Regions from separate parts of the Homo sapiens genome. Here region 1 is linked to region 2. Evidence: fine-mapped expression QTL. A gene starts in region 2. The other region holds a variant in brackets. All regions are shown on one strand. Distances are from middle to middle.

Region 1 (5,379 bases), 26 kb after region 2:
TCCTCTGCAAGGTATGCAAGAAAAGGGTTGCCCTGTCACAGCACTAGCTCACAGTCCACTTACCGAATACAGTTCTTTAAGCTGGTCGTGGTTACCCTGCTCGGTGCTTTTGCCCTCCTGGAGGCCTACTAGGGACTCAGGAGCACTGGAGGCAGGAACGGGGCTGGAGTGTCAAGTCCTCCTCTTCCTTATAAGTGATGCTGGTTGGGAAAGAGACCCAAATTAGTTTATCTTGGAATCTGAGGTGGGAAGATACACAGTACCAGGCTCTGGCATGATCTTCTGTATTTTCTGTTGTCCAGCCTGTTTCTATGTTCCTGGGCCCAACCAGATGGAAAAATTCTAAAGTTCCATGCCAGCTTTCCACCCCCTATTCTGTTGTTATTTCTTGCCATTTGGGAAATTCTTTCAAATTCTTTTACTTTTTCCTTACATTTTATATAAACAACTACAAATAGAGATGAAAACAAGTACCTTTTATAACAACGAGGCAGCATCTTCTCCCGGAGAGTGATCCGGTACTTGTAACAGTAAAGGTAATAGGCGTATGGTGACCAGATCGGGTAGAGGTAGTTACGTGTTTTTCCCCTCTTGATATAAGAAAGGGAGTAGACAGAGGGGCGACACCTCTTACAAGGCAGTTTTTCAGTTCAGTGCCTCCCTGTGGCAAAGTGAAGTTCACAGGTGGGTGGCAGAGGTTTAGGCAACCTGGTGGCATTGTGACCCAGTGGGCACTATGACATGGATAAGGGGTCAGCCCTTATGTCACCTCAGGACTCCACTCTGCTGCTTATCTACCCTAATCCCTTATCCAAGGCTCATATTCGACTAGTATGCATGTTATGGCTGTATGAATGATTAAAAAATAGAACTTGAAGACTTCTGTACTGGTTGGCCAAAAGCCCTGCCTGAGCACTTGTGCCCACCCACCCTGCTCCTCTGTGGACACTCCCCTTCCCCCAAAATCCAGCAAGTAAAGAGTTGGTATCTGACTCTTCCAAGGCTCTGATCCAGTGGTGACCTGATTAGTTGGTTCCCAGTTCATACCAGTTGAGTATTTTTATTATCATCCCTACCCTTAATAACCCAGGATCCTTGTAGGGTAGGAATTGCAAACTAATTGTCTAGGCCCCTTCAGGGGCCTAGACAGCTTATGGAAATTAGTGGAGTGGCAGGGTAGGGCTGTAGCAAAATAGGAAAGCTCACACGTTATCTAAAGGAAGTCCACACAACTCAATTCCATCCAGTTCCATGCAAGAATGCAGACTTGATGGTGCTGTATCGTATGATTTTTGAACAGAAACTGGAAAGACAGTTTTGTAGTAAATCTCACCAATTTTAAAAAATATCGACTACTGGGCCGGGCACGGTGGCTCACGTCTGTAATCCCAGCGCTTTGGGAGGCCGAGGCGGGCGGATCACGAGGTCAGGAGATCGAGACCATCCTGGCTAACACGATGAAACTCTGTCTGTACTAAAAATACAAAAAATTAGCCGGGCGTGGTGGCAGGCGCCTGTATTCCCAGCTACACGGGAGGCTGAGGCAGGAGAATGGCGTGAACCCAGGAGGCGGAGCTTGCAGTGAGCTGAGATCGTGCCACTGCACTCCAGCCTGGGCAACATAGCGAGACTCCAACTCAAAAAAAAAAAAAAATCAACTACTAAAAAATTGTTGATAAAAAAACAACATTGTAAGCAAAATTTGGTTCTGGGACTGCCACTTTGAGACCTCTGCATATTTATCCATTCAACAAATATTTATTGAGGGTCTACTATTAGCCAGGCACTATTCTAGGTGCTTGAGATGATACATCAGTGAACAAAACAAATCCCTGCCCTATGGAACGTATCTTCTAAAAGTGAGAGGACAAACCTAGAAAATAAACATAGTAAATTGTTTAGTATGTTAGAAGGTAACTGCTATGGGGTGGGGGGAATAGAGCAAGATAAAGGAAGATAAGGAATGTGAAGGGGATGGGTCAGGGTTACAGTAAGAAATAGGGTGATCTCTCACTGAAAAAAACTGACATTTAATTAAACACTTGGAGGATGTGAGGTTGTTAACCAAGCCAGCATCTGAGGATAAGAGCATCCAACGCAAAAGCAGCCAGTGCAAAAGCCCTGAGCAGGAAACGTGCCTGGTGTTTTCAAGAAACAAGGAGGCCACTGTGGGTGGAGCAGTGTAAATTAGAGAGGAGCTAATGGGGTCAGAGTATGTATGGCCTTGTAGACCATCTGATGGCCTTTTTCTTTTACCTTGAGTAAAGGAGGAAGTCATTACAAAGTTTTGGGTGGAAGAATGACATGATCTGACTTATGCTTTAAAAAGATCATTCTGGCTGCTATAAATAAGCTACATAGAATTATAAACTGTAGAGAATTAAGGGATATCTTTTAGGGGACTATTGCAGTAATCCAGGAGAAAGTAGTGTCTTATTCCAAGGTAGAGCATTGGAGGTGGTGACAAGTGGCTGGATTCTGGAAATACAAGTGCTCCTTGACTTAAAATAGGGTTATGTCCTGATAAACCCATCGTATGTTGAAAGTATCATAAGTTGAAAATGCATATAATACACCTACCAAACACCATAGCTTAGCCTAGCCTATCTTAAACATGCTCAGACAACTTATCCGACAGTTGGGTAAAATCATCTAACACAAAGCCTATTTTATAATAAAGTGTTGAATATTTCATGTAACTTATTGATG[T/C]CCTACTGAGTGCACATCACTTTCACACCATCACAAACTCAAAAATTGTAAATCCAAGTCAGGGACTATCTGTAATTTAAAGGTAGAACCCACAGGATTTCCTGATGGAGTATGAGAGAAAAGAGTTAGAATGGAAAGAATGGAGTTTCTGTCAACTGAGAGGAAAAAGGCTGCAGATGGGGCAGTTTTGGGGGCGAGGGGGGAATAAATAAATTAGTTTGGGACAGTTAACTTTGAGGTGTCCTTTGGATACGTAAGAGGAAAATGACGAATAAACAGTTGAATATTTGAGACGAGTTTGGGAGATGTCTAGGATGGAACTAGAAATTTGGGAGTCATTGGCTTATAAATGGTATTGTAAGCCACGAGACTGGATGAGATCAACAGTGAGTGTATACTGAGAAGAGTAAAGGTTCAAAAACGGAGTCCCGAGGGCATTCTAAGAAGCGGGGAGAAAAGGAGAAATCAGCAAACGAGACTGAAGAAGACCGGTGTCCAGGAGGCCAAGTAGTGTATTTAGGAGGAAGGAGGACTGGTCAGTATGTTTAAGGGCCAGTCTTTCCATAATCTCTGCCAAATGGACCTTCTTTCATCCAGTTTTTATGGTCTTCTGTCCAGTACTGAGACCCTCCCCAGAGGGAACTGTCGCGGCCTTACCATAGTTGCTTTTTTTTCTACGGTTTACATAGCTTGTGATTTAGAATTCTCCTTTATTAGCTTAAATACTGCAGTATAATGATTAAGGGTCAGGCTCCTCCTGGAGCTGGCAGAGTTTTCCAAGGGATCCCATCCTTTACCACTTTTAGGTAGATTTGAAGTAAGGAAAAGTGAGAGCATCATTCATTCTCCGGTCAGTATCCAGTCATCACAGAACGTTAGAATTAAAAGTTAGCCCAGCAACTGGAGCTACAGCAAAGCCCACACTTTCAAGAGGAAGAGCGTCTTTTCCGGCGTCAGTCCACCTAACACTCATTCCATTATCAGTCAGTAATTCTAGGCGTCCGTCACCTCTGCCAAAAAGCAAAAATAGGCAAGCCGCGGTGCCATCTGTTCCCCGGCCCGCTCCCCATACTTTCGCTCAGCCGTACCGGCGCGCCGCAGGCAGCACTGGCGGGGGCCTTTCCTGCCGCCGACGCCGGGGTCCTCCCTCAGGTCTCATTCTGTGCCTGTGAACATGGCGGCGCCCGTTGTCACGGCCCCGGGCAGAGCTCTGCTGCGGGCGGGCGCTGGACGGCTGCTTCGGGGAGGCGTCCAGGAGCTACTGCGGCCGCGACATGAAGGGAACGCCCCTGACCTGGCCTGCAACTTCAGCCTTTCTCAAAATCGGGTGAGGGCTGAGTCTGGGGTAGGGGGTAGATACGCTCGAGTATTGTTTCTGGAGGCGCACTGGGACCTGGAGGGGGCCGATGTGGGGGTGGCGGGCTTTCCTTGAGGGGCTGGCGGCCGTGGTGGAGGGAGAGGGTGTTCCTTGTGGAGACTAGCTTACCGTCGCTTTCCTGGCCGCCAGGGCACGGTCATCGTGGAGCGCTGGTGGAAGGTACCGCTGGCCGGGGAGGGCCGGAAGCCGCGCCTGCACCGGCGACATCGCGTCTATAAGCTGGTGGAGGACACGAAGCATCGGCCCAAAGAAAACCTGGAGCTCATCCTGACGCAGTCGGTGGAGAGTAAGGCCCGGGCCGAGGCGCTTCCTCTCAGGCTGGTCCGGTTTGGCATCAGCTTTTTCTAGCCCGTCCCCCTCAACTATTTGCCTTGCTTTTTCTTTGTGGAAACAATCCAACTCTATATGTGAGAAGAGGAAGCCATAAAAACTATTGTGATTGTGACACTGGCCTCCAGCATTGAAAATTAAAACATAAAGGCAGCAACATCATTAACAGTGTGTGGGGAGAGGAGCCTGACAATTTGTGCCACAGATACTGAAATCCTCCATGGGACGACAACTCCCTCTATACAGGGGATATTAAATTTATACATCAAGTTCTAAAGAAACTAATTAGCAGTCTCTTAAATCTTGTTCCTAGTGAATATGAATTAGCATTTCTTTTAGGAAAAATAAGCACTGTGAGAAACTAAGAGGTGCTTCTCTTTTTGACATCTTTTCTTTAGGGACTCCTAGATGGTTCTAATTCCCCTGTCTCTGTTCTAATTGACAGATGTTGGAGTCCGGGGTGACCTGGTCTCAGTGAAGAAATCTTTAGGCCGGAATCGACTCCTTCCTCAGGGACTGGCTGTATATGCATCCCCTGAAAACAAGAAGCTGTTTGAAGAGGAGAAATTGGTGAGCTCAAAGGAAGGACAGAGAGACTTGGGGAGATAAAACTTCTTTTCTCTTGCAGCTTCCTTCCCTTTGACATTTAACTTAACTTGAAAATGAAATAGGAACTAGAAGAACAGGAATGCAGAAGCCCAGCCAATGTCCAACATAGGAATAGTTTGATGCTATTTAACATGGGCTCATTTTTCTTTTACTGCTTTTCATCTTTAACTTTCTTTTCTAGCTGAGACAAGAAGGAAAATTAGAGAAGATCCAGACCAAGGCAGGTGAGGCGGTGAGTAGAAACATAAAAAGTGTTTATTTGTCACAAGACTTACCAACCTCACCCTGAGAGTCTCCCTGATTCCCTTGAGGTCTCCTGATTGCAGACCCAAGAGTGGGAGAAAGGGGAAGTG
Region 2 (5,379 bases):
TAAAACAAAACAAAATTGGATCTCTATCTCACACCTTTACACCAAAATAAATTCCAGATGAATCAAATATTTACATATACAAAGACACTATCAAAGTACTTTTTAAAAAAACATAGGAGCTTTAAGAATAATCTTAAATAGTGGGAGACTTTACTAAAAATTATATGAAACACAGAAGTTGGCCAGGCACAGTGGCTCACGCCTGTAATACCAATACTTTGGGAGGCTAAGGCGGGTGGATCACTTGAGGCCAGGAGTTTGAGACCAGTCTGGCCAACATGGCAAAACTACTCCGAGTCTACTAAAAAATACAAAAATTACCCAGGTATGGTGGTACATGCCTGTAATCCCAACTACTCAGGAGGCTGAGGCACGAGAATCTCTTCAACCTGGGAAGCAGAGGTTACAGTGGGCCAAGATCATGCCACTGCACTCCAGCCTGGGCGACAGAATGAGACTCTGCCTCAAAAAAAGAAAGAAAGAAACCCAGAAATTATCAAAGAAAATATTGATAAATTCAATTACATAAAAATTTTTAACATTTGCAAAGAATAACCATAAACAGGCTGAGGGCAATGGCTCAGGCCTGTAATCCTAGCACTTTGGGAGGCTGAGGCAGGCTGATCACCTGAGGTCAGGAGTTGGAGACCAGCCTCAAAATATGCAATATACATAGAACAAACTTGGAAAAGGGAAAATACTTGTTATATGTATAAACAATATACATAGAACAAACTGGGAAAAGGGACATACTTTTTTTTTTTTTTTTTGGAGATGGGGTCTCGCTCTGTTGCCCAGGCTGGAGTGCAGTGGCAATCTCGGCTCACTGCAACCACCGCTTCCCCAGTTCAAGTGATTCTCCTGCCTCAGTCTCCCAAGTAGCTGGGATTACAAGCGCTTGCCACCATAACCGGCTAATTTTTGTATTTTTAATAAAGACGGGGTTTCAGCATGTTGGCCAGGCTGGTCTTGAACTCCTGACCTCAGGTGATTAGCCTGCCTCAGCCTCCCAAAGTGCTGGGATTACAGGCGTGACCCACCACACCTGGCCGGGGAAAATACTTTTAACTTATATACAAACAGCAAGTATTAAGAAATGACCCTATAACCAATAAAAATATGAACAGAATATAAAAACAGAGAATTTACAAAAAAATTGCCATTTAAATATATTAAAAGATGCTCAACTTTACTTATAAGAGCAATGAAATTTTATCTTGCAATGAGATAGCATTTACACTATCAGATTGTCAAAAATCAGGAAGTTTAACAGCACCAGTGTGCTATCAAACAGGTTCTTTTCATACATTGCTGACAGGAGACAAAATTGGTAAAATTTCCAGGGAAGGCAATTTGGTAATACTAACTAAAATCATTTTCAAAAATTGCTGGTGGGATTAAAATTATAAAAATCTTTGTGGGAGGAAGGGAATTTACAAAATTTTATCTATCCAAATGAAAAAACAATGCACACATTTCTTTAACTTGGCACTTGCATTTCTAAGTATTTATCATACACATATGCAAGAGGGAAATGAAGTATCCTTGCATATCAATCAAATGTTAAAGGACTGGTTAAATATATCTTCATATATCCCTCAGGCATACTATGAAACTATCACTATGAGGCAGATACGTATATGCTGCTACGGAAACATTTCCAGACTGTATCAAAGAAAGTTGCAAAATAGTATGTATGTTATCAACTGGGTTAAAAAAATATATGTGTGTGTATATATATATACACTTTATATATTACACATATACACACGTTAACTATAGAATATCTTGTGAAATTTTTCACAAGAAACTGGTAACCCTAGTTGCCTTGAAGGAAGGAAAATTTATTCACTATAATAACCTTGTTTCTTCTGAATTTTGTAGAATGTAAATGTATTACTTATTCAAAACGCATACACATTTTTATATTAATAGAAAGCAAAACCTGAGGCCCAAAGGCATCTGCCTAATTGACAAAAGATACAACCTTGCGTTCTTTCAGCAAATATTTATTGCTCATCACCTGCCAGGTATTGTGATGGAAGCTAGTGCGGAAGATCCCCCAATGACCAGGATCGCCCGACCCCTGTTCCCAGGGTGAGCCCCTAGCGCGGAGCGGGGACAGGGTGGACCGAGTAGGGCGCAGTGCTGGTCTCGCGAGGCTCCCTGCCCCACGGAGGCAGTAGCAGGACCCAACCGTTCCTAACCGTCCAGGGACCAGGACAGCGTCTGGAATAAAATCTTCCAAAGCAAACTTCCGCCTGCGGAGACCCGCTCCCTTCCTCGCCCCCACAGAAACGCCCCCCGCCACCACCCCCTCCCCCGGCGTAGGCCTTCACGCTGTCGCCTCGACCCGTTTCCTCGAATCCCCAGGGAAGGGTGGGCCCCTGGCGCCCCTATGGCCCGCCGCCCCCTTACCACCGCGGTCGGAGCCCGGGTCTCACTCTCCTGCCGCTGTTTCGGGCCACACCGTGTGTCCGTGCCTCCGCAAAGGAATAGAAGAGTGGGTCCTCGCTCTCTGCGGCGCACCGCTTGTCCCTTGACTTCCTGTCCATCTACAAAGCCTATTTCATGTTTTCCAGAAAGAAAACGTTTTCCGTGTCTCTTGAGTCCTCATCGCCATATGCGGGGCGGGACCGATCTATGCAAAAGATCGCAAGAGAAAACTGATGGAGCATCGCCCATCATGAGGCTGCTCTCCCGATGGTCACTGAGTTGTGTTGTGGCACTGTCTTTGTACAAAGACACCAATTTTTGCGAACGGTGCCACTCATGATTCAACGCTCTCATGCCTCGGTCCCAGCTGCTGGAGCGCAGATTTTCCTCCAAGGGTTAGAAGATAGAAAACTCCTCGGTAATTGGCCTAGAGGTGGTCTGCGAGGACGCCGGGAAGCTTGTAATTGGCTGTTTAATTCTCAGCAGGTGCGGTCTCAGTTAACAACATCTGCTTTTCCTGGATCTTATTGGCTGACAGGGTGGGCCTGCTTTGGATTCCATCCGGGTAATTGGGCAGCGGCTAGCAGCAGCCACGTCGCTCAGGGGCAGCCCGCGGAAGGATTGGTTGTGACGGGAGAAGGCGATTGGTCGGACTGCGAGCAGGGTGTTGATTGGTGCTGTCGGGCTGCGGGGGCGGGGAAGTGGCGGCTGAAGCGCCGCCGGCGGGGCTCACTGTGGTGGTGTGAGTGGGAGGCGGCGGCGCTGGTGGCTGCAGCTGGGGTGAGGCGCGAGGCGGCGCACTCGACGGCTGACTGGAGCAGCGGTAAAGGCGAGGATGGAGACCGAAGGTTTGGGGAGTGGGAAAGACAGGGTCATGGGCAGCCCTGGCCACTAGGAGACGGAAATGCGGGAGCGAGGGAAGGGAGGGGTCTGGCGTGCCCCGGGGCGAGGGAAGGATGTGGGGCGCAGCGGGGGAGTCAGAGCCCTGGGCTGTGAGACGCCGCTCGGGGGCAACTTGACCCACTGGGAACTCGTAACTGTATCTGAGGAAGATGCTCCAGTCACCCGCTTACGCCACAACGGACCCGGTGCGGGAGCGTTTGTGTTTGCCCTGAGTCAGTTCAGACTCTTCCACTGGGCCTTTTTGAGACTGAGAGCTGCCATCCGTATATCACTTTGCCTTTAACTTTCCCCAGCTTTTTCTTTAGTTATCGCTAATAGGATGGCTGTTTACAGTCGTCAGAATAATACATTGGGGTTTTTGTTTTTCCAGTATCCCTCATTCCTTAATCCAGGTATCATCGTGGGGGTTGGCTGGAGACCCCTATTTCAAAGACTGACTTTTAGACCCTTTCCTTGTTTTGAGAGAAAGGGGTTGACACTTTTTTTTTTCTCGTGAATTTAAAATAAACGTACCAAGGATGAGAACATTGAGCTGCTTCGATTCAAGCATGTCACCATGTTGTAGGTTCTTTGTAGGTTCTGGTTATTAGGAGATACTGGAATGAGTTATCTATGCTTTCATGGAGCTAACAATGTGATTTGACTTCTCATCACATCCTATTTGACTCCTGTCATTTTAAATGATAAAGTAAGCCTTAGCGATGCATATCAGATAGTTTTTGGCAATTGTTCAATACAAATGTCAGGAAATTTCAAAGTTAGCTTTCACTGAAAACCATTATCTAACCACATTCCTCACTGAACAATGATCCTCATCTTCTCTTCTTAGCTTCCCCTAGAAACTGTGGTCTTAAGTTCTAGTATTTTCCTCCTTCCCATTCAATTTTTAAGTAATAAAATCAAACACAAGCTAGCAGTCAGTACTATGCAGTTATCCCCGTTTACATTATATTATTTTCCATTTCTCTTTAAGAGAAACTTATAGCTGAAAGGATATGAAAATTGTGAACAAAACCATAGTGACAGATCAAGTAGAGTCTCATTTTTTGAGACATCAGCTGATAACTCAATTAGCACAAATTCATTTGTAATGTTTGAAGAGGAGTTAGTGAAATTTACCTTTTGCTTCAAATAGAAGTCGGCCAAAACCGCACCTATAATCTCAGCTACGCCGGACGACTGCGGGAGTTCAAGGCTGCAGTGAGCTATTATCATTCACTGCATTCCATCCTGGGTGACAGACCAAGGCTCTGTCTCTAAATAAACAACAACAAACTCTCCAATTCATCTGTTCTCCATCTCCATCATTGACACCTGGACTAGGCCCTGATTGGTCTCCTGCAGCCACGGTTGCTGCCTTCAATTCATTCTCCTCACCACGGACACAGATGTTAATCAAGAATGACAAGCATGGCATGTGTTATCAAGGGATATTGGGGATTCTGTGGAAACCCATAGCAATGTAATTCAACCCAGTGTAGGGGGTCGAGATTGAGGGGCCTTGGCTGCAGAGACCCCTCTGCACTTGATCTTGATAGTGTCAGAACTGGAAAACAAAAGTGCTGCTAGTCCTTTGGGCCTCTGTAAAGAGGTGTGATTATGACTGGCCATCAAAACAGACTTATTTCTATTGCACACTGTATTGTGTAGAAATGACTAATGAGCTGTGTGATCTTAGATCAATCCTTTTCTATCCCTTAGCCGCAGTTTCCCAAATTGCAACGTTATTAATGGAATCAAATAAGTTCTGTAGTCCCTTCTAGTTATAAAATCTTGTGATTTCTATGCCCCATAAGCATCAATTATGGCCAGTTTTTAAAAGCAGACAGCATGAAAATACAGATCCAGTTTATTCTTGTTCACAGGGCTAGATTTCAGTTTCCCAAAGCCCTTAAGACCTAAAGACTCCTGCCTGTCAAGATCTTCCTTGCCAGACAGGAAACTCCATGAAGGCAGCTGCCAAATCTATCTTGACTGTTGTGTCCCGAGGGTCAAGCACACATCAGAATTCGATATTTATTGGCTTGAATAAATGTCCAT

Evidence for each region.
Region 1: its variant is fine-mapped to the expression of TDRKH in whole blood (TOPMed, PIP above 0.99).

The regions. Positions count from the first base shown.
Region 1 is chr1:151,761,984-151,767,362 of GRCh38, reverse strand. MRPL9 (mitochondrial ribosomal protein L9) reads left to right here and starts at 3,867. Exons shown (of 7, transcript NM_031420.4): 1 at 3,867-4,036; 2 at 4,217-4,373; 3 at 4,863-4,987; 4 at 5,208-5,258. The coding sequence starts at 3,884. OAZ3 (ornithine decarboxylase antizyme 3) reads right to left here and starts at 708. Exons shown (of 5, transcript NM_016178.2): 1 at 475-708; 2 at 64-200. The coding sequence starts at 641. It also overlaps a transcript of TDRKH not described here. RefSeq lists an enhancer at 3,717-4,096. The variant T/C (reference allele first, on the strand shown) is at 2,710.
Region 2 is chr1:151,788,285-151,793,663 of GRCh38, reverse strand. TDRKH (tudor and KH domain containing) reads left to right here and starts at 3,164. Exons shown (of 13, transcript NM_001083965.2): 1 at 3,164-3,284. TDRKH-AS1 (TDRKH antisense RNA 1) reads right to left here and starts at 2,915. Exons shown (of 2, transcript NR_146292.1): 1 at 2,419-2,915. RefSeq lists a silencer at 3,220-3,479.